Linked DNA regions of Homo sapiens. The protein of the gene in region 2 purifies or fractionates together with the protein of the main gene of each other region. This does not show direct contact. Each region holds a gene or a part of one and is shown on either strand. Other genes may lie near its edges. The genes, in order: PRR4 and KCNIP4.

The links.
Region 1: the proteins of KCNIP4 (region 2) and PRR4 purify together in Homo sapiens (affinity purification with mass spectrometry; 2 studies listed by BioGRID and IntAct, with this or other methods). This does not show direct contact.

The regions. Positions count from the first base shown.
Region 1 is NC_000012.12:10,841,361-10,857,322, forward strand, and holds PRR4 (proline-rich protein 4 isoform 2 precursor), read right to left. Parts: upstream 8,116-15,962; 5' UTR 8,078-8,115; coding exon 8,014-8,077; intron 7,048-8,013; coding exon 7,012-7,047; intron 6,008-7,011; coding exon 5,703-6,007; coding exon of another isoform or gene 5,685-5,702; intron 4,591-5,684; coding exon of another isoform or gene 4,584-4,590; 3' UTR 4,489-4,583; downstream 1-4,488.
Region 2 is NC_000004.12:21,941,655-21,957,456, forward strand, and holds the start of KCNIP4 (Kv channel-interacting protein 4), read right to left. Parts: upstream 7,119-15,802; 5' UTR 6,978-7,118; coding exon 6,917-6,977; intron 1-6,916.

The DNA.
Region 1 (15,962 bases), on a different chromosome or scaffold from region 2:
ATATAGTTGTCTTAAATATTTACCTATATACACTTAAAATCGCATCTGATAATGTCATAATTTTAACTTCAGCTGTCAAATAAATTTACCAAACTGAAGAGGAAAAGGAAGATGAAGTTATTCATTTTTTCCCTTTCCATTGTGTTTTCTTTAATTTTGGTGTTTTAAAGTTTCTTTTTTAATCTTTTTTCTTTTTTTTTTTCCTGGATAGAGAATTTTCTTGAGCCCCTTTTTAAAAGGTAGACCTTCTGGTGACAAATCCTCTCAGCTTTCTTTCATCAAATGTCTTTATAGCCCTTCCATTCCTAAAAGACAAATATACCAGATATAAAAACCAGAATTGAAAGTTATTTTATTTCATCACATAGACAGTGTTGTGCCACTTTTCTATGGCTTTCATCTATTTCTGATGTTTCCTGCTTCCATTTGTATTGTTTTCTCTCCTATAGATGAGCTATTTCCTCTAGCTGCTTTCAAAATTTGTTCTTTCTTTTAATTTTCAGATATTTTACCATGGTATACCTTAGTTTGGATTCTTTGTGTTTGTCTTGGTTAGTTTTATGCACTGAAAGTTTGTGTCCCCTCAAAATTCATATGTAGACATCCTAAATTCAATGTGATGTTATTTGGAGGTTAGGCCTTTGGGAGGTAATTAGGGTTAGATTAAGTCATGAGGGTGGGGCCCTCATGTTGAGATCAGAGGCCTTATAAAAAAAAAAAAGAGAGAGAGAGAGGGAGAAGGAGACAAGAGATATCTTTTTCTTTTCTCCAACATGTGAGGATACAATGAGATGATGTCCATCTATAGCCAAAAAATGTCTTCAGCAGAACTCATCTGTGCTGGCATTCTGATCACGGTCTTCCAGCCTCCAGTATTGTGAGCAACACATTTTTGTTTTTATAAACCACCCATTCTATGGTATTCTGATACAGTAGCCTAAAATGGCTAAGAGATTTTGGGTTTGCTTGAATTTAGGAATCTGTGGGTTTTTGCCTATTGCCAAATTAAGGAAGTTTTCAGTCTTTGAGACCTTTCTCAAAGTTGCCCATTTCTTCTCTCCTTCTGGGACTCTGATAACACAAAAATTAGGCCTTCAGTTATAATACTACAGGTCCCTGAGGCTGTGTTTATAGTTTTTTCCTGCTTACCTTCATGAATTTTTTATGTGGTTATTGTAAGTTTCAGTTCTAAAATGTCCATTCAGTTCTTTCATATATTTTAATTTTTTGGCTGAGATAATTTTTAAATTTGTTTCATATATGTTTGTAAGCAATATACTGGAAGCATTTTTATGATGACTGCTTTAAAATATTTTCTGAATAATTCCAACATCTTTGTCATTTTTGTTCTGGAATCTTCTAATTACCTTTTACATTCAAGTTGAGATTTTTCCTGGTTCTTTGTATACCAAATGATTTCTAAATGAACCAGGACATTTTAGGCATTATGAGACTCTAGAACTTATTTACCTTTTCTGTCTTAGCTAGCTTCCTCAGACACTACTCCAGCAAGGCAAGGGAGTGAGGGAGGGACACTGCATTACTGCCAGGTGATGATAGAAATAAAGGTTTCCTCTCAATCTCTGTTGACACCTAGGCAGGCGGAGGTTCCTCATTACTGCTGGCTGGAGGGTGGATTCTGGGTCACCACTGGGCCTCCACTGATAGCCTGTCTCGGAGGAAGAAGTGACTTGTTACTGTTTCCCACATGGCCTCCACAAGCACCACCTGGTATGGAAAGGAGGGTGCTTCTTCATTGCTGCTTTTAGAGTAGATCCAGCTCCCCATTTGCTCTCCAGTCATATCAAGGTGTGGAAGGAGAGTGAGGGGCTTATTACCACAAGTTGGGGATGAAAGTTCCAACTTCTGCTATTCTGAGATACTATTCTGGAGGAGGGTTGGGACACCTTGTCACAGCCTGGCTGGTATGAAGATCTAAAGATCTAAGCTCTTCACTTGAGGTAATAGTGTTTTCTGTGGTACTTGACTACAGTAGAGTGGTTATTGTCGAAATGTTTTCTGCCTTGGTAGACTATTTCCTTGACCTTTGCCTAAAATAATAGGCTTTTGTTGGGAAATTCTCATATGTGCCTGTTAGTATTTCTATGTTGATGGCATTTTCAGCTAAAAGTCTGCAAATTATAAAGCAGAAAAGAAAACTTAGAGGATTCATCACTATACAATTTATTAAGTCCCTACCACATCTGCCTTGGTCTCTCCAGGTCTGAGTTTTCATATATTTTATATATAATGTTCAGGGTTTATAGTTTTTCTTAGTAGAAGGAATAGGGCAAAATACATTTACTCCATTTTTCTGGAAGCAGAAATTGGTTTACTTTCTGTAAGAAAGCAGTTGGTGAATTTCTGTCTAAATTCTCTGCCTTTTCAAGAGGAACTGGGCTTTACTTCTCAGATAACAACTGAGCAACGATAGACCTACAGGTGGCATTACTCTCTGTATAGGTAGAGAATAGGCTGAATATTAAATGTTAAGGAGCAGAATCATTGGAATTTAAATGAGGAAGGAGACTTAGTTTTTATTCACGTTAACCAGCCACCTGATGACATGCAACAGTGCGTTTGTTCATCAACATACCTTTTAGATGGCCTTTCTGCTTCTTTTTTGAATGGCTTTAATGCTAAAGAAAGCAAGTGTTTATCAAATAATCTATTTTTTAGATAATTCATTATTAGAAGTTAATTCATTATTAGAAAGATAATTTATTATTAGAAGGTAATTCATTATTAGAAAGAACAAAACGAGTCTTTTTTAATAAAAGAATAAATAAATTTAAATGTATTGAACTTTTATTGTTGTATGTCATGTAGGGTAATTTTGTATACATGTTGCATTTTACAAGACTTAAATCGTGTAATTTTATATACATCTTGTAGGGTAATTTTATATACATTTTATAAGGTAATTTTATATATATTATGCATTTAATTCTTGTAAGTAGCCCTCTGCCTTAGCCAGTTCGAGCTGCTATTAACAAAATATCTTATCTTGGGTAATTTATAAATAATATAAATGGATTTGTCATAGCTCTGGAGGCTGGAAAGTTGAAGATTGAGATGGTACCAGATTTGGGGTTGAGTGAGAGCCCATTCCAAACAGACAATTTCTCCTGGCTTCTCTCTCATGAGGCAGAAGTATGAAAGAAACATGAACATTGAGTCCCTACATGTCAAAAGAGATGGAACAGCTCAGCAGCCTTTGGGAGCTTCTTTTTGTAGGGAAATTGATCCCATTCATGAAAGCAGAGTCCACACGACTTAGTCACTTCCCCCAAAGACTCCATCTCTTAATACTATTGCATAGGGAATTAAGTTTCAACATAAATTTATTTTGTAGAGACATAAACATTCAAACTATAGCATTCTGTCCCTGGTCATCCCCCGAAATATATGGTCTTCTCACATACTAAGTACATTTATTTCATCTCCCAAATCCCAAAGTCTTAACTCATTCCAGCATCCACTTTAAAATCTAAATCCAAAGTCTTATCTAAATATCATCAAAATCAGATATGGTGTGGCCAATTTTCTAATATTGAACCATCTTTAACATCCTCATCCTCTTTCAACGTGGTTTATTATTCTTTTAGCATACTGTTCGTTTGTTTATGTACTATTGAATAGTTTCCCTAACAGAGTATCCTTGCTGTCCTATATATTTTGTTTAATGAAACTCAGAATGAATTCAGAAACTTGTTGTTTCCTGTACTTAAAAAATCTAAAAAAGAATTATGTGCTTTTTAATGATAAAGATTAGATATTAAAATTTTCTGTATTCAGCGACATTGGAGGTGATAATGAGAGGTAGCTGGAGACAGTTACATATCAAATTCTTTTGCTTCTTAGGGTTATTTTCTATTCAACTTTGCCTCAGCAACTTGAGTTAAATTTGGTAGTCTATATTATCTGACAATAATACTGATATTGCTGGAATTTTTACAATCAGAACAGAGTTTTACTCAAATTTCTTGCCCTTTAAAGTACATTATGCTGCACCCTTTATGAAATCCACTCAAGTTTTTAAAAAGAATGGTGAACGACTTAGGGAGGAAGAGAGCTGAGCAATGAAAAAAGAGGAGAAAAGAGCATAGTGAGTTTTATAGAGAAGAGATCTAGAACTACATTTATGCCCCTAGAAACCAGGATTAATAGTTTTGGAAATTTTAAGAATTCCCCAGCACTTGCAACTCCCTCTCATTTGTTATATATTCCTTGTTTTCCTAGAGTTACAAGAATATCAATGAAAGATGTAAAAATAATTTTAAGAATTTGCATTTGTGCTATGCAATCTAGGACAGAAGGGGAACAATGGAACTCTTTCTCCTTGGCAGCTGGCTTTATTAAGATAAAGGAGGAGGGAAGCCTGCTGGAAGCATCAATGAGCAAGAGTCCCAGATATTCTTAGATTGTATTAATGGCCCTCAAATTCTAGACTCAGAAACACCCACAAAGAGAAGCAACAATCAGAAATTGCATGCTATTAATATTTTATTGGTATACTGAAGAAAGAGTTATGACCACATTATTTCAATGTCATGGCTTTCTGAAGGAAGTTATCTTCTTATTTATTTTCTGAAACAAAAAAAAAAACCAAGGAAATTTATACACAACATACAACATGGCAAAACTTATCTAATTCCTTGATGATATTACTGAAGTAAATTATTGCTTTCAAGATTAAGAAAACAGATTTTTTTATGGTGTTTATGTTTTGGTTACTGTTCAAAACATTCAAGGTTATATTTATGAAAATGACTGCAACTTGAACCTGTAGTAGTGAAAAACTAATACAAGCCTACATATCAATTAACAGTGGTTGACTGAGGAAATCATGGTACAGTCACACAAGAGAATAGTATACAATTGTAACAACAAAAGAAAAATGTACAAATAAATCACCAAGAAGATCTATAGGTCTCCGTGAAATGATAAAGTTGTCTAAGACATGTATTATTTGAAATAAGCAAATACAGATCTGCATATAAAATAATATGTCATTTGTGGGAAAAATAATGACGTATGCTTATATACATATAAATATTTCCAGGAGGATGTTCAAAAAATTAAGGGTGGTGACTTTTGGTGAAGGGTGTGGGTAAGTAGGATAAGGCGTCACTTTAAGATTTAGCTTCATACCATTCTGTTCAGTTAGATTTTTTTTTCCTTGAGCATGTACTAATTTCAAAATAAGTATTTTAAAAATTAAATAAGATATAAGAGCATCAAGTTCAAGTATCATTTAGCAGGGACACTGGACCTGAGAGGCTAGTGTGAGGCAGGACTGAGCAAAGAGTCCTCTGGCGGAAACCTGAGAGAAACCTGAGATGGAGAGTCCTTGGGTTTGAGAAGGCAGACTCAAAGACAGGAGGCAGAGCACCAAAGGGAGAGCACACCCCACTTCCTCATTACCAACTCATTTTAATGAGACAAGTCATCTTAAGAAAAAAGTTGGGGAGGTCAGTATTTCAAAAGATAAGAATTCTTTGAACCACTTGTTAAAAATACAAGGACTTGCAACCTTATCCAAGAATATCTGAATACAAATCTTTAGAAATGGGGTCCAGGATTATGTAATTTCAACATATTTCCAATTGATTTGTGAACACGATAAAGTTTGGGAATGGTAGCAGTTTGGGCATTTAATGGAGAATGAACTGGAATCATACCTGCCACTGAATTCTAGATTACCAGAGTGGTTGCTCCTGGGGATGTCTTGCTGGTCTGTCCCTCTGGAAGAATGATGATGCTTCCTGCAGGCTGACAGAAGGAAATCGGGGTAGAGAGAGTTGACGGTGTCCTCGTCGGGGTGGTCGTTGCTGATTTTGAAAAGGAGGTGGGGGAGGATGGCGGTGATGGCCTCCTGGTTTTGGTGGTCTCTGCTGAGGACCATCATCTTGGTTACCACTATCACCAGGGGGTCTAGGTAGGAGTCCTTCAGGAGGAGGTCTCTGGGGTCCCTGATCTGGTCTCTGACTTGAGTCCTCTACATCTGTGTGAGTAATTAATGGACAAGAATGCATGAGCTCAGTGAAGAAAAACTCTCCTCTCTTTATACTTCTCTCACCTTACCACACAGCCCTGTTCTCCCCAAACCTGCTGCTTGACTGTCAACTTCTTTTGTGCCCACTGTTTTTTTTTTCTTTTTATGCAGCTCTCAACTTAATCCATGTAAGAGTGATATGGAAAGTCTCATTTATTTGCTCCTGTGACAAGTATGTTTCCTTAAATGAAAAGAGGGGTTCTTGCATATCTTAGAGTTGCCAGAGGATGTCTCCAAGGACAGAAAAAAAAAAAAAAGCAAAAGCATTATAGCTTTCAGTTATGTTACTGGTTATTTTTTATTTTTATTTTTTGGTTGCTGTAATGACTTACAAACTGTGACTCCATCTCTGGGCACCTAAGCCCTATGTGGAAACTAGAGCTGATTTCCCAGGCTCCTGGAACCAAGTAGAGAAATACTAAGAGACAGAAGAGAAAGACAATGTGAAAGCCTGCACATGATCACTAAACAGCTGTGGCAACTATTTATCATCTGTAGTGACACAGCTGAGTGGGTCAACACAGAGAAAAGACATTCATGCAGTGATTTTTTTGTTTTGTTTTGTGTTACTCCCTGAAGCCACATAACCGTGCGGGGGAACACTGGGGGAAGAAAGAAGCAGTTAAGGATGGAGGAGTCAGAATGAGAACACTTCTCATTTGTTCATCATCTCTCAGCAGTCATTCCAGCCTGGGAAAAAAGCCTGCCCACTCCTATTGTCCTCAAAGCCAGGCATCTCTGTATTCAAGTTGGTGGCCTGGCTCATGGTCCCCAGAATCAAAGATGGGTAAGAATTGCCTATATATTTAGGGGCACTAATATTAATCAATGCCTGACCCCTCTTACCACCTCCTCCCAAAAAAATGATGAGAAGAAGACACTGAAGGAAACTAAAAAGAAATTCTAGTGGAAAAAGAAAGAAAAGAATTGGATTGAGGATCATTGGGATTTACCTGGTATGGTGAAAGTAAAGTCTTCATAGTTCACATCTAGGAAAAGAAGCACAGGATGAAGTGAACATTACCTCATAAATCTTTCAGGGCTCATAGTGGTCTATAGGGAAAGGGGTCTTCTGGCCACACCCTGTGCATCCCCTAAGTTACCTCATCAACCATGTTCTGTGAAGCTGCTGGAAGGGGAGGAAGATGTTAGGGGAGGCAGGATTGTTACTATCGCTGAGCATCAACCACGAATTCAATAGAAGAGTCCCTTTTTGTCATCCTTAGGATCCCTCAAACCCTAATGCTAATTTAGGCACACTTCTCTGGGTATTTTCATGTCATATTTTAGATCTTTACCTTCTTCCTTCTTTAAATATTTTGATCATATTCACAAGCTTGCCCAAGAGGAGCAACCAGGAGTAAATATTTGGATATAATCTTACACATGCTGCCTGCAACATATTGAAATTTTAAATGTGATTGGAAGAAAAATGGGAATTTGGGGACCTGATATTTCTATACCACTATGTAGAAAGACACAAATGTATTATCCAGTCCTCTATGTCTGACAGTACTCTGATGTTTGTTTATCTCTTTCATTGATTCTGCATCCCCTGTACAGCAAGGACACCATCATCGCTGTCCACTGAGATTACTGTAGCATCTTCATAGCTGGACTTCCCTGGATCAGTCTTGCATTCTCCACTGCATCCTTCACAGCACAGCCAGGTCTTTCTAAAAATACAAATCTTACTTTGTCATTCCTCTAATTGAAATTCTCTATTGGGTTCCAAGTGTATATCAAATAAAGTATAAGGCCTTGGCATGGAATGAGGGCACAACAGATGTCATCCTTGGAATGAGAGCTCCAAAGCCCTACCCTTCTTCTCAACCTCCTTCCTCCCCTCCTGCTCTTCCGCTGCAGTGGTGTAGGGTGAACCCCTGAGGCCCTAGAAGAGTCATGGCCCCTCATCCCACTCCCCATCTCCTTTTTTAAAAAAATAATTTTTTTACCATTATCTGTGCTCTGAGCTGAGCTCAGAGCCAGAAGGACCACTGAGAGCAGGACCAGCAGCATCTTGAAGGAGGCTCTGGAGTTGCTCCCAACTCTGCGTTGAGAGAAACATGGCAGCTCCCTTTATAAACATGAGCAGAACAATGGCACCTTTGAGCTCCATACTGGGTGGACCTCACCACCTGAAAGATTAGGTTTTGCTTTCCTCTCATAAAGTTGAATGCGTCTCTTATTACTTTTTGGGATTTTAGCCCAGCAGGATGTGGTGGTAGGATGTGGTTAGGTACAAACTGTGACTTGAGCATAGTTTCTGAAGAAACAGTATCCAAGCAATCAGCACAAATACTACAATTGAAGTTTGGTCATCATTTGATTTTCAATTGGGTTAGACAGTTAGTCTTTCCCCTTCATTGGTTGTCTGTGTGCACACGTGCTTACGTTTGTATATGTTTGTCAGCAGTGATCTTATAGCCAGAAGTGAAAATGATTAATATCTCTAGCTATTAGTGTAGCATAAATTCCATTTTTATAGCATATATACCTATATGGATGATATGTAGCTTAATTTCATAATAATATAGAGATCATTTCTGTTTAATGTTGAGTTGTGTGAGGACAACACACACTTGGGCACACGTGGATGACAGAAGTTTTACCCTCAGGCTACTCTGGCCCAAAGAGATTAAGATTCTCCTAATCTAGCATTAACCAGAGATACTTTATTGTTGTAGAACACAGGTATTAAAACATTCTATCTTTATTAATACCCTGGAGGTTAGTAAGGCAAAATTGGCCACAGAAAGCACCATTAGATTTCTGCATCAGAACAGTGTGAATACACAGTTCCTTGAACAAGCCATGCTATTTTATGTCCCTAAGACTTCTTCCATGATCTTTCTCTTTTCTAGAATGTTCTATATGATTCAGTTTAGGTCTTACTTCTTGTACCAAATATTTTAATCACACTGGTTATTGAGTGGACACAATAATACAATCTAATTAGATAGTATGATAGCCTGTTGAAAGCCTCAAGTATTACATTGATTTTCTATTTTTTAATTAGTTTCCATTCTATTTGCTTCTCAGATTGCCTTTACCAAAGATTATTTTCTCTGCAATATTCTTATACTCATTCTTCTTCACTCTTGTGCTGAACCTTACTTGTTGATATGTTATATTGTGAATCAATCCTCCCTATGTCTATGTTTTATATCTTACTGCTTTCTTCATGCGTTCTGGGAGAAATCTTTATTTGATTTTCTAAACAAGGTTCTGTACTTCTCTTTGCTTGCTTTCTTCTTTTTTGTTTTTAAAATTTGGCACCAAGGTTTTGTGTTTCTGAAAAGTTTGGTAGGGTCCTGAGTTGGTAGCTTAATCTTCACCTGCTGATTTTTCTGTCCTATCTAGTAGTTTTCTGCTTATATTTTCATGGAACCCCTAGATCAATCAGTATCACCAGCTGCCACTTTTCATTACAGGCATTGTATAGGTCTCGTATTATTGTTACATTTTTGTACAGGGCTGGTGATAATTTGAGGATAGCTTGGTTGGAAGTATGACAGGGTCGGGGGAATGTGACTGGAAATCTTAAAGACAGGCCTCTTGACCATTGTGGATAAGTGGATCCTGTGCTGTGCAGATGAAGGTCTGGTCTGGCAATTCTGAAGGGTTGGAGGTAATATTACAGGAAGATTTTCTAATCAATGGTGTTTGTTATGGATAACTTTACTTTGGCAAAGTGACCAAAAAATAAATATTTTCTCTGGCATAATTATGGACATATTTTGAAGGTGAAATATATTATGAGTTAGCAATTCTTCTCTATGTGGGAAGCAGAAGAGTTCTAGCTGTGCTTTAGGGTTTTATGGGTGAGAGAGAGTAGTTGTTTGGGCCTACAGACCCAGCTGTGTTACTAGGATTGCTGCCTCTGATTTCACCAGACACTGTTTAACATGGGAAGTGGAGATAAGTAGTTCTGCCTAGGTGGCTTATGGTAGACCATCAGGTAGGAAAGGAAGGTCAGCGAGAAGGAGCAGAGGGGCGTGCCATGCAGACATGATTCACTGTGTGGGTGGCTGAGGAAACTGCAGTCCTGGTGGAAGGCAGGCTTCTCCTTGGCTGGTGAGTGCAGGAAGACAACAGGTGATGCCTGCAAATATCACTCAGCTCAGACCCTTACCCTGACATTCTCCAGTGTAAGCAATGAGAGAAAGAGATTAATGTATCAGGAAATAATAAACATCAGCTATGATCTCACCACACACAACCACAACAGAGGTGACGGAGGAGCTGAAACAGACACTGTCAGTGAGTGAGGGTGGGGTCAAATCGAGAAGCAGGACTGCAGCAGGAGCTTAGGCACTTGTAGGTGAGTGGACACTCTCAGCAATCCACTTGCCTTTTACAACAGATGAAAACTTAACATACCCCTAATATAATTCTTGATTTCTACTTCCTAAAACCTGCTCTCCTTCATACTAATTTGTTATGGCTACCCTAAAAAAATGCCCCACAAGTGGCTTAAACAACAGAAATTTACTTTCTCATAGTTCTGGAGCTTGAAGTACAAGATTAAGGTGTCAACAGGTTTGGTGTCTTCTGAGGCCCTGTCTCCTTCACTTCTAGATGGCCGGTTCTTGCTGTATCTTCACATGGGGTTTTATCTGTAGACGTGCATCCCTGGTACCCCTCTGTGGTCTGTGCTAATGTTCTTTTCTTATGAGGACAGGTGTCAGATGGGATTAGCACCAACCCTATCAGCTTCATTTTAACCTAATCACCTCTTTAAAGGCCATGCTGCAAATAGAGTCACATTCAGTGGTATCGGGGGTAAGGGATTCAACATGAGAGTTTGGAGGGAACACAATTTAGCTGATAACACCTCACAATCTTTTCTCAGTTCATGACATTTGTTTCACTCAACCATTCAAAAACATAAGTGTCACTCTTGATTGTTTAGTCTCCTCCGTGTACTGCCCTTAGCAAATCCAATTGGTTCTACCTTCAAAAGATATCCCATATATGATCAGTTTCATAATCTCTATCAGAAGGTCCTGAGTCAAGCCATGATTCTCCCTCCTGGAGGACTTTCAACAGTCTCCAGCTGATCTTGGTGACATTCCTGCCCCTCACCACATCCCAAGCAGTTCTCCTTACAACAGCCAGAGTGATCTTTTAAAAATAGAATTTAGAACATCAGCAAGATGGCTGACTAGAGTTCCCTGGCACTCATTTCCCCACAAAAAGAAATCAAGAAAACAAACAATTTTATGTCAGCCAGTGTGATTTAAAAAGTATGCTGGAGACCACCAGGGGAACAGAAACACCTCTGTGAAGTACAGAAACTCAATATAGCATCCTGCCTCTGACATACTCTCTCTTCAGTCAAGGTTGGCTCAGGGTCATCAGTAACTCCATTCTACAGGAAAAAGTAAGCTGTAGTTCCCCAGTGGTCCACATTGCCATAAAAAATGTCAACAATCTTTGCCCCACTGTTCTCACTGGCACAAAAACCAGTCTGGAGAGCAGTTGGGATTTCCAAACTGCATTGCCTTACATAGTAAGAGACCACCTTGAGCACCCTCTGCCCCTGCAATGTAAGGTGCTATGGCTCAGTGCCATCTCCAAACTGAACCTACATAGAGAGTGTGTCTTGCTTTGAGCATCAGTAGCACCTGGCTCTCTATCACTTGAGGCCCCACCATCATTCCAACACATTCATACAGGTATCTGCAGCACCATGACCCTAGCTTCCCAGAGCCTAGCCAGATAAACTAATCAAGACCCCGGCATCCGAACCCATGTGGTGCACCACCAATCCAGGGAAGAAGTGAACAGCAGGGAAGCCACCCATCTGCCTACTAGCCACGACACCCACATGCACCCACACCTCACAACCAGCTAGTCTGCTGAGCCTGTGCATGCTGGTGCCCAGCCTGAAAACTGGTCCTGTGGTGGGCCCACCCCCAGGACTACAGCCTGCTTGGGCCACAACAACTCTGAGTTTGTGCATGGTCTAATAATTGGTCCTGCAGTGACCCTGCCTCCTCAGATGGGACTCTGCAGAGATGGATGGCCCTGCTACACCTGTGAGCACTGACAGCAACCCGCCCACCCAGCAGGAAGACAGCAGTGCATGTAAGTGCACACACCTTGAGAAAAGGCTCTTCCCACTGCTGCTGGTGGCACAGTTGCTGCTGTCACCACCGGGGGCTGCAGCAGTGAAATGCCAGTTGGACCCAGCAAAGTGGCAGGATCCTCAGCATTCTAGCATATGCAGTGTTCTGCACCTCAGGCACTGGAAAGGCTGTGAACCAGACATAGGGAGCCAAAGCACATGCTTTCCAGAACCAGAGAGCTGCCTCCCTGTGGCTGCTGACACAGACAGCAATGTCACCCCCGCAACACAGCAGCAGAGATGCTGCACACTTGCATGCAACCTGGGGACAGGCCCTCTCCATCTGCTGCTGAGTCTGCTGATGCAGCTGGGGGCCAGAGCATGTGCCACTGGCAGTGACCTGACTTCCACCAGCAGCAGAGCCACTGTGAACTTGCACGTACCCTGAGGACTGGCTTATGCTGCTGCCAGAAGCCAAAGTGTGCTCCACATTGCCAGAGAGCTGCCTGCTAGTGGCTGCTGCCACTGACAATAACCACACCCTGCCCTAGCAGCACAGCTGCAGCAAATTTGCATGTGCCTCGAGGACAGGCTTTCTTCAGGTATTGCTCCTGCTATTGGGAGATCCAAGGATTACCCCATCCAACTTACCACAGCCAACATCCATGTACATAACTAGGGGGACTGAGGACAGGCCTGCCAAGCCTGGTTCCATCATCCCAGTGCCCAGGCACACTACCCAGGGGTGTGGCAATCATCCTGCTTTGTCCACCACCACTGGCATTTGCACATTCCTTTAGGAGGACTGAGAATGGGCCCAACCAGCCTGACAGTAGCACTGTAGCCAGAAACAATATGCATGCAACATCTGAAGGTCTGGAGACTGGCCCCCAGCCCATCACAACCACCTCTAACACCAGAGCTTGCAACTTGAGAATCTGAGGGTTGTCCAACCAAGCTACAGAAATTGCCCATGGCAAGCACATTCCCAGAGGCCTAAAGGCCCACCCACCCTTTCAGCCTACCATTGCAACTGCTAGTACCCAGGTAAGCTACTTAAAGCCCCCAGAATTGTTCTGCTTAAAGCTGCTAAAACTGGTACAAACATATGTTGCCTAGGTGCCAAATATAGGCACTCTCAGCCCACTGTTACCCCTACTGGGGCCCAAGAACTGGCCCACCTAAAATCTCTGTCCCCAGGAAAACCTCACTACAGCCTCCAATCACAACTACAGCCTAAGCCACTGAGGAAGTCACAGACACCACTTATGCTGTTAATAGCTGAAGGAATAATATAAGACCACCTTACTGTACACACACAGAATCAAAGCCAAAGTGTCCTACTGAATCAACACCACAGATACATCTTCAGAAAGAAAAGTTAATGTTTTGGATCTATGTCACTGCCCAAATCTCATGTTGAATTATAATCTCCAATGTTGGGGGAGGGGCTTCATTGGAGGTAATTGGATCATGGGGGTGGATCCTTCATGAATGGTTTAGCACCATCCCCTGCGTACTATTCTTATGACAATGAGTGAGTTCTCATGAGATTTGCTTGTTTAAAAGTGTGTGTCACCTCCCCCCCACCCAGTCCTTCTCCTGCTATGTAAGATGCCTGCTCCTGCTTTGCCATTTGCCATGAGCAAAAGCTCCCTGAGGCCTCCCCAGAAGCAGATGTCACTATGCTTCCTGTACAACCTATGAAACTGTGAGCCAATTAAACCTCTTTTCTTCATAAATTACCCACTCTCAGGTACTTCTTTATAGCAATGTGAGAATGAACTGATACAGAAAATTGGTACCGAAGAGTAGGGCATTGCTATAAAGATACTAAAAATGTGGAAGCGATTTTGGAGATGGGTAATGAGCAGAGGTTAGAAGAGTTTGGAGGACTCAGAAGACAGGAAGATAAGGGAAAATTTGGAACTTCCTAAAAACTTGTAAATTGTGACCAAAATGCTAATACTGATATGGAAAATGAAGTCTGGGCTGAGGAGATCTCAGATAAAAATAAGGAACTTATTGGGAACAACTGGAGCAGTCACTTTTGTTATGCTTTAGCACAGAGCCTGGGTGCATTGTTCCCCTCCTTTAGGGACTTGTGGAACTTTGAACTTGTGAGTGATGATTTAGGGTATCTGGTGGAAGAAATTTCTAAGCAGCAAAGTGTTCAAAATATGACCTGGCTGCTTCTAACAACCTAAGCTCATATGCCTAAGCAAAGAAATGAGCTAAAACTCAAATTTGTATTAAAAAGGGAAGCAGAGTGTAAAAGTTTGGAAAACTTGCAGCCTGGCCATGTGGTAGAAAAAAAATTCCCATTTTCTAGAGAAGAATTTACCCTAGCTGCAGAAATTTGCATGAGTAAAGAATAACCAAATGTTAACAGCCAAGACAATGGGAGAAAGACATTGAAGGCATTTCAGAGACTTTCGTAGCCACACCCACATCACAGGCCTGGAGTCCTAGGAGGGCAGAATGGTTTCCTGGTCCAGGCGCAGGGCCCCACTGACCTGCACAGCCTCCAAACACTGTTTCCTGCATCCCAGCTGCTCCAGCTCCAGCTGTGGCTCAAAGGGGTCCAGCTGCAACTTGGGCTGCTGCTTCAGAGGATGCCAGCCATAAGCTTTGGCAGCTTCCATGTGGTGTTAAGTCTGTGAGTGTGCAGAGTGCAAGAGTTGAGGTTTGGGAGCCTCTCTTTTGATTTCAGAGGATCTACAGAAAAGCCTAAATGTCCAGGCAGAAGCCTGCTGCAGAGGCAGTGCCCTCACAGAGAACCTCTACTAGGGCAGTGCAAAGGGAAAATGTGGAGTTGGAACCCCTACACAGAGTCCCCACTGGGGCACTGCCTAGTGGAGCTGTGAGAAGAGAGCTGTCATCATGCAGACCCCAGAATGACAGATCCTCTGGCAGCTTGCACCATGCACCTGGAAAAGCTGCAGGCACTCAATGTCAGCCCTTGAGAGAAGCTGTGGGAAATGAACCCTGCAAAGCTACAGGGGTGGAACTGAAAAGGCCTTGGGAACCCACCCCTTCCATCAGTATGCCTGGTTGTGAAACATAGAAAGTCAAATGAGGTTATTTTGCAGCTTTAAGATTTAATGACTTCCCTGCTGGTTTCAGATTTGCATGGGGTCTGTAGCCCCTTTCTTTTTACAGCTTTCTCTTTTTTGGAACAGGAGTGTTTACCCAATGCTTGTACTCCCCTTGTATCTTGGAAGTAACTGTTTTTTGAATTTACAGGCTCATAGGTGAAAGAGACTAGCCTTGTCTGAGATCAGCCTTTGGACTTTCGACTTTTGAGCTAATGCTGAAATGATTTAAGACTTTGGGGGACTCTTGGGAAGGCATGATTGTATTTTGAAATGTGAGAAGGACATGAGATTTGGGAGTAGTGATGGGCTGAATGACATGGTTTGGATCTGTGTCCCCACCCAAATCTCATGTTGAATTGTAATCCCCAGTGTTGGGGAAGACTGGCATGTTGGGAGGTGACTGGATCATGAGGGCAGATTCTTCATAACTGGTTTAGTACTATTCTCTCACTGCTGTTCTCATGATGGTGAGTAAGTTCTCATGAGATCTTGTTGTTTAAAAGTGTGTTGCATCTCGCCCCCACTTGGTCCTGATCCTGCCATGTAAGACTCCTGCTCCAGCTTTGCCTTTTGCCACAAGTAAAAGCTCCTTAAGGTTTCCCCAGAAGCATATGCTTCTATGCTTCCTGTACAGCCTGCGGAACCATGAGCCAATTAAACCTTTTTTTGAAAAATAAATTACTCACTCTCAGGTATTTCTTTATAGCAATGTGAGAATGGACTGATACAAAAA
Region 2 (15,802 bases):
ATAAATAATTGGGGTGGGACAGGTAGAGGGAGAGAAGTTTCTAAAAGGTCAATAACATATCCAAAGGGTATTTAAACTGACAATCTATTTCCAATGAGAGAGCCACTCAACCACACTGGCTGTGTTCGTTTAGGAAGAAAAATCAGCCTTAACATGAGCATGAAGGCCAAATGCTCAATATGGAAAATTCTATATTTATATCCATGTTCAAATTATTCCTTATATTGTCAGAGTGTGTGAAGAGCTTTTATGTTTAAATACTGACAGTCACCCCTTTTTCAGGTTTTCTAATGCTACGTGCATGTGTGCGCATATAGCACAGCCTGTAGTGAAAAGACTGGGCAAGAAGAGGAGATACAGCCACAGCAATGACAGCAAAGGAGCTGAACTTCTGCTTGTCTCAGCCTTGACACACTTTTCACTTCCCACTTACTTCCCTCTCAATACAGCCTGATTTTTCACTGTGAAATCTGATATAAAAGGAAATGCACCTGAGGAAATGGGTGTATATACACTGAATGACATCTCCATGCCTTTTTAAATTTTCCCATTCCTTTCCACATCCACTGCTGTAATGCAAGGATCTATCATCTGATGAGAATAATGGTGGTGGATGTGGTGGTGTAGGCATTCACTCACTGAGGGGAAATTTACAAAGGACCATTTGTGGGGTTAGGGGCCAGGAGATGTGAGGCCCCTCAGACTACTGATGTTGGAGGTGATCATTGATCTGGAAGGGAGTAAGAATGAGGGAATGTCATAGTAACAACACCCAAAGATGACATTGATGACTGCCCTAAATACACAAAAACACTGGGCATCTATTAAGCTCTTTTTCAGAAACACTGTACACTCTGATAGTCATGGTGCTATAGATGCAAGAACATTCACAGTTCAAAGGAGCATTATCTTGATGTCATGTACTGTGCTCATAAACTCAGTCCACTGAATGGAAAGACATGGAGCCAAAAGTCACTTTCAGCCAATGGCTTAACATGCAATCAAATGTGAATTGTAACTTTGGTCTTTGGTGGGTCTACCATGGGACAACGTGATTTAATTCAATCAATATGTTTAAATATCTACTAGTTTTTTGTTTTGTTTTGTTATGTTTTGTTTTTGAGACAGAGTCTCACTCTGTTGCCCAGGCAGGAGTGCAATGGTGCGATCTAGGCTCACTGCAACCTCTGCCTCCTGGGTTCAAGCGATTCTCCCTGCCTCAGCCTCCCAAGTAGCTGGGATTACAGGTGTCTGCCACCACGCCCAGCTAATTTTTGTATTTCTAGTAGAGAACGGGTTTCATCATGTTGGCCAGGCTGGTCTCAAACTCCTGACCTCAGGCGATCTGCCAGCCTCGGCCTCCCAAAGTGCTGAGATTACAAGTGTGAGCCACCATTCCTGGTCTAAATGTCTACTAGTTTGTGAAGCATTGTAGAAGTGCTTACTAGAGGTACAAAAATTAGTAATTCTTGCATGGTACTACTTGCCATCAAAAAGTCAACAGAACATCTGCAAATGAGACAAATTATGTCCAGTGAATTCTGCCTTGTCATTCAGATCTATATCAACAATAAAAGAAAAACAACTTATGAAAATTCAAAGAATAATTATTTGGGGAGGAGTCAGGGAGAAATCAGTAAGCCCGCAAGAGAAGGACACTACATTTCAGATGTGTCTTGATGGATATACAGATTTTCACCAGGCAATGTGAGGGCAGGAAGTTAATTCTAAGCAGTGGGTAAAACAGGAGATATAGCTGGTTATGGTCCCAGCTACTCAGGAGGCTGAGGCAGGAGGATTGCTTGAGGCCAGGAGTTCGAGGCTGCAGTGACCCATAATGGCACCACTGCACTCCAGCCTGGGCAACAGAGTGAGACTCTGATTCAAAAGAAAAGAAAGAAAGAAAAAAGGAGATATGTTTGGAGACCAGGGAACAGTTCAGTTTAGCCAGATCAAGGTGTAGACCCAGCTGCGTCATGATTTTCGTAGGAGCCTTGAAAATCAAGCTAAGGAATTTGTATTTTTGATTCTATAAGTAATGGAGGGGGGCATTAAAAGATTTTGTGCAGGAGAATCTATGACTCAAGTTAGGTTTCAGTAAATTTAGTTGGTTTTGAGTGGGGAGAAGCAGTTAGTGCAAATAGGATGTAACCCTCATGGCCTAGAAAGGATGCTGAGAACATAATCTTGGTGGTAGAAATGGAAATTGAAGGAAGAGACAGATATAAAATACAGAAAGAACCAACAAGTCTTGGTGACTTATTCATCATGATGAGAATACCATAGAGAAGGAGACTCTTGCTTTTTTTTTTTTTTAACAACATGCCTCAAAAAATGTTGCCACGATAATTGTTTTCAGAAGATAGAGCATGTCTTTTTAGACATACTGACTTTAAGGTGCTGGTAAAACTTTCTTATGAGTCTGACGAGCAGAAGAGGAATGGAGCAGACTATACACTCAAGAGATAACTCCCCATCAAAATAAGAATCAAAGCCACACTTTGATTAGGAAGAGAGTATAGAGGGAGAAGATAATTAAAAGACAACCATGTGAAAGGCTGCACAAAATGGGCAAAAAGAGGAAATAAGTGTCATAAAAGGAGATCTGGCTGGGCGCGGTAGCTCACGCCTGTAATCCTAGCACTTTGGGAGGCCGAGGCAGGAGGATCACTTGAGGTCAGGAGTTCAAAACCAGCCTGACCAACGTGGTGAAACGCCATCTCTACTAAAAATACAAAAAGAAAAAAAAAATTAGTCGGGCATGGTGGCGGGTGCACCCGTGATCCTGGCTACTCGGGAGGCTGAGGCAGGAGAAATGCTTGAACCCAAGAGGCAGAGATTGCAGCGAGCCAAGGTCACGCCACTGCACTCCACCCTGGGCAACAGAATGAGACTCCGTCTCAAAAAAAAAAAAAAAAAAAAAAGAGAGATCTGAGAGAAATCAGAGAAAGGAGAATAATTCAGTGCAAGTGGGAAAGGCTTCATTCATTCAATATCTGTTGTTGAGCAAATATTACAAGTCAGACTTCATGCTCAATACTGGGGATAAAGTGGTGGACAGGACAGAATACTTCTGCTCTCACAGAGCTCACAGTCTTCCAACACATGTTGGTAAACAGCATGAAACATCCCAGTGAGTTCAGGACGACACGAATTGAGAAAAGTCCCTCAGGACCTTTAACCAAATGAATACTTTTGGAATGAAATGGGTGCTTCAATGCCCAAGGGTAAATTAATTTATAATAATGGGTGCAGTTATATAATTTTGAAAGATTTTTCAGACTTGCAAAGGATCCTTGAACAAACAAAATACTCATCTCCCCACAACCCCCTCCCTGCCTCACACGTTAATCTACTTGAAATAGTCGCTAAGAAGAGAGGCTATTAAGTAAAAAAACACATTCTGTTATGTATTATTGAAAAGCAATATTATTCACATGTTCTGGAAAAAGTGAGAACACGAAAAATAAATAAAAGGACAAAAAATAGTAAGAAGGGCTTAATAATTTAAGCCCAGAAATATATCTTCAAAACAATCAACCACTACCTGGCCTACAATTCTCCAGAAATCTTGCACACAGATTTTATATTGCATGGCTCATTAATTTCCAAACCATCCACAGCTTTATTTTATGAGAGGGCATAAGCTTCAGGCCTGGGGAGAGAGGGTGGCTGAATTTCAACACTTTGTCCTATCATTTGTTTAGTACACCTCTTACATTTATATGACATAAAGAAAATAAAATAATGATTGTATGATGAAAAGCTTTTCATGGATTCAGAATAAATGGATTTTTCAATATTACCCTTGTGGAATTACTAATTTGAGTTTGCCTTATTTTTAAAACACATGAAACTTAAGCCAAAGCCACGATACATCCATCAAATGGCAATTCAAAATTGAAGACATTTTTTTACTCTACTATTGAAACATACATTTTCCTCATTTTTAGTTGTAGATTACATCACATAACATCTGCCATCTCTAAGTTAGATGGCACAAATTAAGGACACCAATGAATAATTTTGTAGTTTTTTTTTTCCTCTGACCTTGTTTCTGATTCTCTTTCAAACATAGTTGAATTATCATCTCCCTCAGTCTCTCCACTGTTAGCAGGATTACGTTCTGATTTTATAGCAGGAGTGCAAAATATGGGATTAGACAATGAAATGAAAAATGTATTTTGGTCAGGCTTTGGGTTTAACATGGAAGCTGGCAGGGCAAAAGTGAGCACTCTAATTTGTAAGAAACCTTCTCTACTTGTATGTACTTATGCACAACTCACCCATTTTCTGTCCTCTCTGGCATTAACAATGTCAATTACAGTGATTTACAGGTGGTGTTCATCAGTTAGCATACTAGATGCGTTTACTTGTTGAGAAGAGAGTACGGAACGAACTTTTTAAACTAAATTATTATAAAGTTTCAGAATTGCAACTCGACTCTGTTCTGTCATTTCCAACATTTCCTCTCTACTTTCCATTCATGTAGTTTCATCCTTTGCCTTTCAGCAAACCATTTTTCACAGTGTTCTATCTCTAAGTCAGGTCATAAAATACATACACGTACGCACACAGACTCACACTTCTCTAATTCTTGATTTCTCTATCATCCACCTACATTTCTCTCAGTTAGATCTTCCAGTTAAATTTTGCTTAGATTCCAGCTAAATCATCTTATAAACCTCCATTCCAGAGATATATATTCAAGGAAAAACTGTATCATAGTACAAGATAGTTTGGGAGTTATATAAATAGCCTACTTATTGGAAAGAGAACAAGAGATCGGGACTATTATTTTAAAACAAAAATGGAAGACAGAGTTTAAGCCTTTAAAAATCATCCCTTCTCATCCCAGGATTAGTAAAGACCATCCTATATCTGATCACAAGTAAGCAAAGTACTTATGCATATGTTTGGTGAAAATAGTATTACATATTTGGGGATCATTCTCTAATATTAGCTTTGAAGCAATATCAACAAGAATAAAAAAGATAATCCAAACTATTTTTTTCTTTATTCTTCTCATCATATGACAACTAACTAAAAATTTGTGAATACAATTCAAGAAACAGGTGTCAAATCAATTCTCAGCCAGAAAACTCATCACTTTGGTCTCACCTTAGCCAAGGTATAAAACAACATATTTCTGTTCTCTAAATAAACAGTGAACACATGCTGATTCTGGAGATAGCAGTAAAAGGTTTGCTTTTTTAAATGTATAGTACTCCCCAGGTGTGACTTCATCTTCATTTCCCATTTATAGTGATTATGGCCACCCATGACCCTGTGCATAGTCTAGACATGCTGATTCAATCCCCATCCGGTTGATGGAAGAACAGGTACAGTCAAAGAGCTGTGGTCACTGAGGAGCCAAGCAATGCAAGCCATCCAGATCCTGAGACGACATTCCTGCCATCTGCTCCAGCCTTGAGTTCCCTGGGCTGCCGTGTGTGAATGTGTCTCTAATAGGACAGCGCTAGCCCTCTACCCTGTTTATTCTAAAGAACTGCAAAGACAGAGACCCTACGAACTCAACTCAACACCCCAAAACTACTCAGCCCTCTACATTAAACACGCCACTCAGGAAACATTTGATCTCTTAAAGATTGTAAGCATTTCTCACAAGAGATAATCTACTTATGCTTGGCTCGTAATGAGTGGGCATCTCCAGGCATAAGTGAAAACAGAACTAAACACAGTTACAAGTCAAATGTGGGGCTTTACAGGTGATGTTCATATTATTTTTTCCAGTCCAAAAGGATTAAGACTGTTCTCTTTAAAATTTCATATTCAAGTGAGACTAGTGTCCTCCCGGTTACGATGACCTTAACTATTGGAGTGAGGAAAAGAAAGGGAGGGTGTCCATTTCCATTTCTCATGGCCATAAATTCGAATGATTGACTCAAGTTGTTGAGGTGACTCCATTTCCCTGAGTACTAAAGAAGGCAGCAAGTGGAAACACCTCTTTGCTTGCAAGTTTACAGCCCTCGAGTCCAAGTTTTTCACCCTCTAAACCCAAACTATGCTATAGCCATATGTGACCCCTTAGCTTATGTAATCAGGGAGAGGTCCAGCCCTTTATCACTCTCATGTGCCCCAAAATCACTTCCATTCTCTTTCCGGCTCCTGTAAAATACTCTGTACACATCAAAACCACCTAATAACAAATCGATGCAACCCAAGACGCTTTGTGGAAGGGCATCGTCTCCTATTTCTCTATGGATCCCACCAAACAGCAAAACATTTCTCCCTGCTTTCGCAGAACGCACGTTTCTCTGAAAGCCAAGCTCCTAACACAGTGCCCGATACCTTAACAAGGCTGTACTGTATATAAATTATTTGCAAGTGTCACTGAGGACCATTTTCTCTGAACACACTAAACTGAAGCTAGCCATAAAACAAGCCATACGCTCCTGCTTTAGAATCTGACATGGGCAAGATGCCGCCAGTATATTACCAGGGGACAAAAATACAGTTGTAATGAAGAAACGTGTGGGGGCATGAAGGAAAAGTGGAAGGCGAGGATCAATACTATTTCAGCTCATTAATCCCCAGGTGTTAGGGGAAGGAAGCGTGCGGTCTGGAGTCATCTGGCAGATGCATAAACAACCTCGGAAATTTTCAGAGAAGGCAAAAGTACGCACAGGATCGCAGGGGACCCTGCCACCGGCGAGTTTCAAACACACTTCAAACATCTTTTCTTCCCCGACCTGGATCTTGCATGCACCCCCCTCTCCTTTGCACCCCATTCCTGCCGCTCCCACCTCCCCTTCCCAGTCCCGCCAGGTGACTGTGTCTCATGCAGCGAAGGCAACAAGCGTCCCCAGCCGAGGAAGGGAAGGGGCAGCCGTCTTGGCTCGCGAGGGAAGGAGGGCGGAAGCGGGCGCCCGCTCGCAAGCTTATTGCATCCTACCGCCTGTAGAGCTGGCCTCCTCCAGCTGAGCCGAAATGCTTTCCACCCTCCTCACATTCATGTCTAGGGACGCAGGGTGCAGAAGCGAGACTCGAGAGTCCACCGGCCAGGGGCGTCTGTCCACGGGTCTGCACGGGAGCGCACCGCCGCTCGGCCCGGGGGCGTCCGTGGCGCTGGGAGCGAGAGCTTCGGCGGCGGCTGCGGGCAGGGCGCGCGGAGCGGGCTGCAGGTGCGGGCGGAGGCCGGCGGGGGGCGCCGGGGGCGCTGCGCGGCCCTTGGCGGCGGGGGCGCGCGGGGTGGCGGGGGAGGCCGAGGCGCCGGCAGCTTCGCGCCGGCGGCTGGAAGCGGGCGGGCTGCACGGGCGGCTCGAGTGCGGGGACCCCAGCCCCTCGCCCTCGTGAGCGCCGCCCCTGCCACCTGCTGCCAAGTCACCGGACTGGGGATGCGGGGGGCGGGGTGCGGGGAGAGGAAAGCGCCGCGGGTGGCACGGTGCCTCTGGCGACAGAGTAGATGGACCCGAAAGAGACCCGAGGTGACTTCGGGCTGGGCAGGACACCCCCGGGAGTTGCCAGCGGCTCTCAGCGGGCGCCTCTAGGACCCCTTGTCACTGCGAGCAGCGCCTGCTCTGGGGAGGGGCTCGAAGGCGCCGCGCCTTCTCAACGCGCCGCTGCGTCCCCCAGGGGCTCCAACTTGGACAGCTAGACTGGAAATACTGCTGCACAAAGTTAGGCTGAGTTCGAAGGACACCAGAGAGGAAGCGCAAGGAGATGCCCTTCTCCGGAGCCGGGCAGAGCGCCAGAACTCCTAGACGGGAAACTTTCCCCCATTGAAGCTAGAACCGGTCATGCGACTCGGCTAAGTGTGGGGAAACACTGGCTCTAGACTCCAGGTGAACATCGCAGGGCCGAGGTGCAGAATACCACCTTGGAGAGAGGGGGTGGCATAGACTGGTGGCATTTTGGAGAAGCATCCATGTGGGGGGTTTCATTTGAGATCTCCCAGGCAGGTCAACCAGGAGGTATCGCTCACCACCCGCAAGGTCATTTGCCCTTCTAAAGCACAGTAAGGCCGGGAATAGTTGGGAAGGTAAAGAGAAACCAATAGACCACTTGTGGCCATGGTTACTGTTTGAGAAGTCAAAATTAAAATGCAGATTTCTGTGTCCCCAAGAGTCAAGTGCATGAAGCCTCTCTTTTCAGAAGAAAGGTCAAGTTGACCCGTTCTCCAGGCAAACTGAATTAAAATTCCCTCTCACTCTCAGCTGCAAGGTCAGTTGGCCATGACTTGGGTGGAAGCCATTTCTAAGTGTTTGTGAAACTATTTGCCTTCCCTATGGCTGCTGGATTATTTATACACACTGTCACCAAGTGAAATCTTCCCCCTTTCTCCAAGTAGGTCTCAATTGACACCTTATTGCCCTTCTCCCCACCCCCAAACGCACGAGCGATTTACTTAGTCCTTTGAGCCCTTGTAGCATGTATTTGTATATTTCTTGAGAGCCTTTTACTCTTTTAGTTCATTGTTAAGGAGACAGATGCTGACACCCCATTGTCTGGGTTCAAATCCTAGTTCCACTACTTCATAATCCTGTGGCCTGGTACAAATATCAGCTATAACTGGTACCTACATTATTGTTTTGTTGTGAGGATTTAAGAAAATCAATAGATGCAAAGGGCTTAGAGCCGTGACTGGCATGTAGCAATCACTGTATAAAGACAGGCAACCCTGATTCTTGAAGTTGAGAACAATGTTATATTGACAAAGCAATTAGAAAAGTTCCTTGCACATAGTTGGTCTTCACTAAACATTTGTTTTTTCATTATTCAGCAAACATCTAGTAACTACTGTGTACAAGACACAATTATAGGCACTGGGATACCACAGTGAATACAACAAAGACCCTCAGTTATTGGCTGACTATCTAGAAGGCAGAGAGACTGACAATAAATCAAGGAATCAGAAGTGATCTGCTAGGGAGATCACTTTTATATAGGGGGTCCATAAGGGCTTTATGAAAGAGGCAACATTTAATTGGAATCCTGATGAAAGCGAGGAGCTAGCCATGGGCATCTCAAGGGAAAAAGAACTTCCAAGCAGAGAGAAGAGCAAGAGCTAACATAAGAATAGCATGTTTGCAGGGCAGCCAGGAGGTTGACAGGGCTGAAGTACATTGAGAGAAGGAAAGGGTAACAGGAGAGAGAGTCAGAGAGGATGGGATCATGTGCAGTGTAAATGTTTATTGAATTTTGTCTGCATACTTTTACAGCCAATGCATTCTTCCCACTTGCCAGCTTCCTCATAACAAGTCTTCTCGCTGCCCATTCTATCAGATTCAATCATTCGATTCTGTCGCGTGCCACCTTCTCCCTCTTCTGCAGACTTCTCCTAGCAAACTTCCAACTTACTGACCAACTACTTCTTTCTCTTTTTCTGTAGCTAACACTCTTTCCAGAAACCACCCACAACTTTGAATCACTAATACTTGTCCAACTCCAAATTTTGTCTTCTATATGATGACTTCTAAAGCTACCTGAGCATGCTGGTTTGGATTCTGCAGCCTGGGTTGGAATTCCAGTTCCAACTGTGAACAAGCTGTATGTTTGAGGACTAATAACCTCCCTCAGTTTTCTCACTCTAAAATGAAGAAAATAATAGTGTCAGCCGGGCAAGGTGGCTCATGCCTGTAATCCCAGCACTTTGGGAGGCCGAGGTGAGCGGATCACCTGAGGTCAGGAGTTCGAGACCAGCCTGGCCAACATGGTGAAACCCCAACTCTACTAATAATACAAAAATTAGCCAGGTGTGGTGATGCATGCCTGTAATCCCAGCTACTCAAGAGGCTGAGGCAGGAGAATCACTTGAACCTGGGAGGCGGAGGTTGCAGTAAGCCGAGATCATGCCATTGCACTCCAGCCTGGGTAACAGAGCAAGACTCTGTCTCAAAAAAAAAAAGTAAAGAAAAGAATAGTGTCTACTTAACTATTGGGAAAGATTATATGAGGCAGCATATGTAAAGTGTTTAGGATGGCCCCTGGCACATAGAGTCAGTAAGAGCTGCCATCGTAATAGTTATCACCATTATCATCATCATATTTTGTCATGGTGAACTCAAAGAAGAAATGGCACCACTATATTCTACAACAGGTCTAAGCAACCTTCCCTCACAGTGTGGGAAGTAATACACAACCCCTTTCTCATCTCCAAAATATGCAGAACATTTTGTTGGACCAAACTATCTTTCAAATCTTATCCAAAGAATATCTGCCCATGGTGGCCCTACTAAACGTTTACCCCTTAACTAATTATAAAGAAGGCAACAAAATCGTGTAAAGTAGACACTGTGCTGAAGAAGTTTGTAATATATTAACATATAAATATTGTATTATATAATATAATCAATATATAATATTAATATATTAATATATTTCCAAAATATTTGTATGGGAGTTTAGCTACTACAAATCCCAAGTCCAGACCTTTTTACTCGGATTCTTAGTCATTGCCAAACATCACAGAATAATTATCTTTTTACTGCCACATTTACCGCCATTTTTGATATTTGGGACCGAAAGTCCAGGATTTCTCTGTCTTGCTTGTACCATCTCCTTATTGGCTCTTTAAGTACTTCAACTAGTTAAAGAGAAGAGCTTCATAGGCCACAGCATGCTGTGCCAGCTTCTTATTACTCCTCCGAGGCTGTAGCAACCCTAGCCCGTCTTCCCAACCTCAAGACACATGCACAAAGATTGCCACCTTCTCTGACTAACCCTAGATTACTTTCTGTATAGCACGGATGTGTATTTTTCCCTCAAGGAACCATATTCAAAATTGAGTGCAGAAATAGGAAACTCACCATGTGCCAGCCATGAATCTCAGACTTTATGAACATTATTTCATTTAATCTTTACAAAGCACTGGGAGATAAGCACTGTTATTATCTCTACTTAACTAGTGAAGAAATTAAGCCTCAGAGAAGGGAACTGGTTTGCCAGTTTTATAATAGTAATCAGTATATCTGGGCTTTGAACCCAACCGTCTGACTCAAGAGCCCCCATATTTAATTACTACAGTGTACTGTCACCCTGCACTAGAATTTCGATGCTCTAGACTCTGACATTTCCTAGTTCTGTGTCCTCCGGAAAGTCACTGATCATGTCTAAGCTTCAGTTCCTCTTCTGTAAAAAGGGGAATTTCTGCTTCACAAGGTCATTGTCAGGATCAAGTCAGGGAATGAAAGTGAAAGCTATATATAAACCATGGAATGTTGTAGAAGCATCCAGGATTACTTTTATTATTTCCTGATTTTTTATTGCTTATTACCTTTACTGCTTTGTCTTCTCTGAAAGCCCCTTACATTTTGGCACAATTCTCCCTGGCTCACCAGAACTCAGGCAGTAACAGTAAAACTTCTATTATTTCATAATTGCTGAGCACTTACACTATGCACCTATGCACTGTGTTAAAAACTCTATGTCATTGTATGAATTAATTCTAAGAAAAATCATCATATATACTTATTCTTACCCTGATTTTAAAATGAGACTGAGACTCAGAGAGGTTAAGTAGCCCAAGGACAGCCAGCTGTGAAGAGGTGCAGCTGCGATTTGAACTCACGTTCATCTGATTAAAACACTAGAGCTTTCAATTGCTTCTTGATTGTTCTTAAACTTTAACATGCATAAGAATCATCTAAACAGATTAAAAACTCCTCTGCTCCAGCCTGTGGATGGATTCACTGAGTTTGGTGGGGAGATCTTAGAATGTAATTTATTTTGTAATTAATAGACTTTTAGAGCACTTTTTGGTTTTTTTTAAACAAATTTATTAAAGTATAAATGACATACAATAAACCGCACATAAAGTGTACAATTTAATAAGATTTGACATACAGATACATTCAAGTAACTACAGCACAGTTAAGATAATGAACACATCCTCCACTCACTGAAATTTCATTGATCCCTTTTGTAATCCTTTCCTTTTGACTTTTTGGTTTTCAAAAGAAAAAATGAGCATACAGAGTTCCCATGTACCCTCTCTCCAGTAACCCCTCCTCGAGTTTTCCCTGTTGTTAACATCTGGTATTAGTGTGGTACATTTTTACAATTGAGCCAATGATACATTATTTTTAACTAAAGTCCATAGTTTAGATAGAAGGCCTAATCTTAGAGGAAGAGGTGGCCTTAGAGGAAGAGGAAAAAAAAAGAAATCACTCAGAAGAAAGGCCATGTGAGGACACAGCAGCCGTCTGCAAGCCAGGAAGAGAGCCCTCAGTGTAAATAGAACTCTACTGACACCTTGACCTTGGACTTCCAGCCTGCAGAACTGTGGGAAGGTAAACTTCTGTTGTTTAAACCGCACAGCCTGTAGTATTTTGTTGTGGTAGCCCGAGCGGACTAATACATACCCTAAGATCATACTTTGAGATATCACTACTCTACACTAGAGGCAAGAAAGTGTGGTCTGAAATCCACCAATATCTACATCACCTGTGAGTTTGTCAGGCATTCAGAATCTGGGGCCCTGCCTCAGACCTCCTTAATCACTATCATCATTTTAACAACATCCTCAGGTGGTTCCAGGTAAGCACATTAAAATGTGAGAAGGCTGGGAGTGGTAGCTCATGCCTGTAATCCCAGCACTTTGGGAGGCTGAGGCAGGAGGGCTGATTGAGCTCAGGAGTTTGAGACCGGTCTGGTCAACATAGTAAACCCCATCTCTACAAATAATTCAAAAAAATTGGCCAGGCATAGTGGCTCACACCTGTGGGTAGTGGCACCCAGCTACTCAAGAGGCTGAGAGAGGAGGATCGCCTGAGCCCAGGAGGTCGAGGCTGCAGTGAGCTACGATGGCACCACTGCCCTCCAGCCTGGGTAACAGAGTGAAAAACCCTGCCTTAAAAAAAAAAAAAAAGAAAAAAGAAAAAAAAAATGAGAAGTCCTGCTCGACAGCACACTGGGCACAGCTTTGTGTTTGTTTACTTATATACCTTAGGCTCCCTTGGAGCCATGCAGAGCTCACTGAGCAGAGGAAGAAGCTAGTGTTACAATCAGCTCACTGCACTTTACCCTAATGAGACAATCCAGCTTCATTTTTATGTCAGCCCTACTCACATGAATAGAATCACTTATTATCTCATTAGGTTTCAAGCAGCAAATATCCCTAACCTTGATCATCGGACTACACTTGCAAATTTATTTCTGATTCTTAATCTCTTGTATTATAATAATCAGGTAAAATAATCTTCTTTGAGATCCTAACATTAAAGGAAATATTAATATGCCATAATGAAACAAAAATGAGGTAAACATTTTAGAGCTGCCAAGTTAATTCCAACCTTCCTGTGGGATTTTTATATTCAGTTCCTTAACTGATCTTTACAACTCTGAAAAGTTGACAGCTCAAATTTTATAACCCCCGTTTTGCAGAAGAAGAAACTGAAGCCCATGGAGAGTAAGAGACTTATTTTCACAAGGCACGTGGGATGCACCCAGGTCACAAACCTTCATCGTCTGACATCTTTCAGCACTTGCTTCTATAAGGTTTGCCAAGTTTATAAAAGCTGGAATACTGCCAAATGAAGTGTAAGTCTCTAAGCATCAAAAGTCAGGTTTGCCTTGCAACTTTGTCTTGCAGGATAAGTCCATATTACAGATGTAAAGTTATTATTTCACTTCATTGCAATGACCCTTGACTTGTGGACTTCAGGAAATCCACTGGCTACATTCTGTACATAGCAGGAGAGGTGATTAGAGGATTCGCTTCAGAATGGAGATTTAGTTTAACCAGATAGTTCTGCAAAAACTTAAATATCATTAATGAGGTTAATGCTGAAAAGGTTTTACCTAAATTCCATATCTCTAGGTTCTATACTTGAATATGTTATAATTGGTAGATAGGTTCATTAAATTCCAAATCACTTTATGCCTTTTAATCCTGTATTTTCTTTAATTGCTCATTTTCCTGCATGAAGTCTAAAAATCAGTCCTTGAAAAGTAAGAATTTACTGGTTTGTCTGCTAATAGTTTGAATAAAACTGTTCAAAAGAGATGTTGTTATGACTAAATGAATCAATTTCTAGAATATTCTTTTTTGTTGTTGTTTTTTGAGACAGAGATTTGCTCTTGTTGCCCAGGCTGGAGTGCAATGGTGCGTTCTCTGCTCACTGCAATCTCCACCTCCCAGGTTCAAGCGATTCTCCTGCCTCAGCCTCCCAAGTAGCTGGGATTACAGGTGCCCGCTACCACACCTGGCTAATTTTTTGTGTTTTTAGTAGAGACAGGGTTTCTCCATCTTGGCCAGGCTGGTCTTGAACTCCTGACCTCAGGTGATCCACCCACCTCGGCCTTCCAAAGTGCTGGGATTATAGGAGTGAGCCACTGCACCGGGCCTAGAATATTCTTTTTAACCAAAAGTTGGACATAGCCGAAAACTATTCTAAATGACTATTTTCTTCCAATATCAAATTCAAAGACATTAAGTCTTTGGAAAAGAAAAAAGAAATAGGAGAAATACGTATTTCTGATGTGTGTGTGGCTCAAAGCACTATATTATATTGTTGATAAGGAAGTTAATTATCTTGTTATATTTAAGATTTATTCATTATATTGGTACTTTGGGGAATTAATGTTTGTTTTGTTTTAAAATTCATTAGTAAAATTAAAATTCTTTATACAAATTAGCGGTATTATGGGAAGACTGAGAACCTATTTCTTGAGAGTAAGGTAAAAAAACGAACAAAAATGCCACAGTCTGGGCCTAGAAAATTCAAAACTCGGTCTAACAGTCTGTCAGACTTGAATAGTGAAAGTGCCACATATACACATCAAAAGAAATGAAGAACTTGACACTCAAATTCAGGTGTTAGTTAACAGCCCACCAACAAATGAAGAAAATAATGGAAAAGAAAGACAGACCCTCTAAGTCACAATGCCATTAGATTTTTTAAAGTCCAGAGTCTTTTAGATAGGTGATGTGATAAAATGGTATCAAAGAGAGAAAACCCAACTATGTTAGAAGAGTGAATGCTTACAGAACAAGCACATTTGGATTTTGGGAGAGTTAGGGAACGTGCAATGAAAGATACACCCCTAATCATGGAAGCAGACTCAGTTTTAAGGACACAATCACAATCAATTCGCTGCACTTTACTCTAGTGAGACAACCTTGTTTCACTTTTGTGTCAGTTCTACTCACATGGATAGAACTGTTTATTGTCTCATAGGTTTCAAGTTGTCAATAAGAACTCAGGGATGGTGGTGGTGAGGGGAGTGGATATAAAGAAATAAGATCATAGACTACTGGATAACAAGGTCATCTGATATGAGAAGCCATTTATATTTTATTTCCTTTGTTGGTTTTTGACAACAACCTAAGAATCTTGAATCATTCATACCACATGTCAAGAAGCCAGGCACTGTGTAGGGAAGATGTTAACAGGGGAAAAGAAAGAGTCCCTTCCTTCAAGGAGCCAGCATTCTAGTGGTAGATTTGCACAGGGAAATAAGCAACTTTAGTAAGAAAAATGAATGCTTATATAGCACTCTCTATGTATTTTGTATGTGTTAACTTATCCAATATTCATGTTCCATGAGTCATATGTTAGTTTTTGCTATATAAGAAACCTCCCCCAAACATAATGGCTTAACATAATTATTGGTTTAGCTCACAATTCTGTGGTCTGCCAATGTAGGCTGTGCTCATCTGGGCTCACTCATGCATCTGTGGCCAGCTGGCAGAGATATGGTCATCTTACATGTCATGCAAGTGGTTGGAGTAATGGGTACAACTGGACCATGTCTCTGTCACCATCCAGATGACTAGCCCGTACTTCTTCATTTGATGGTAGCTGCAGAGTTCCCAAGAGCAGCAAGAGGGAGTAGGTGC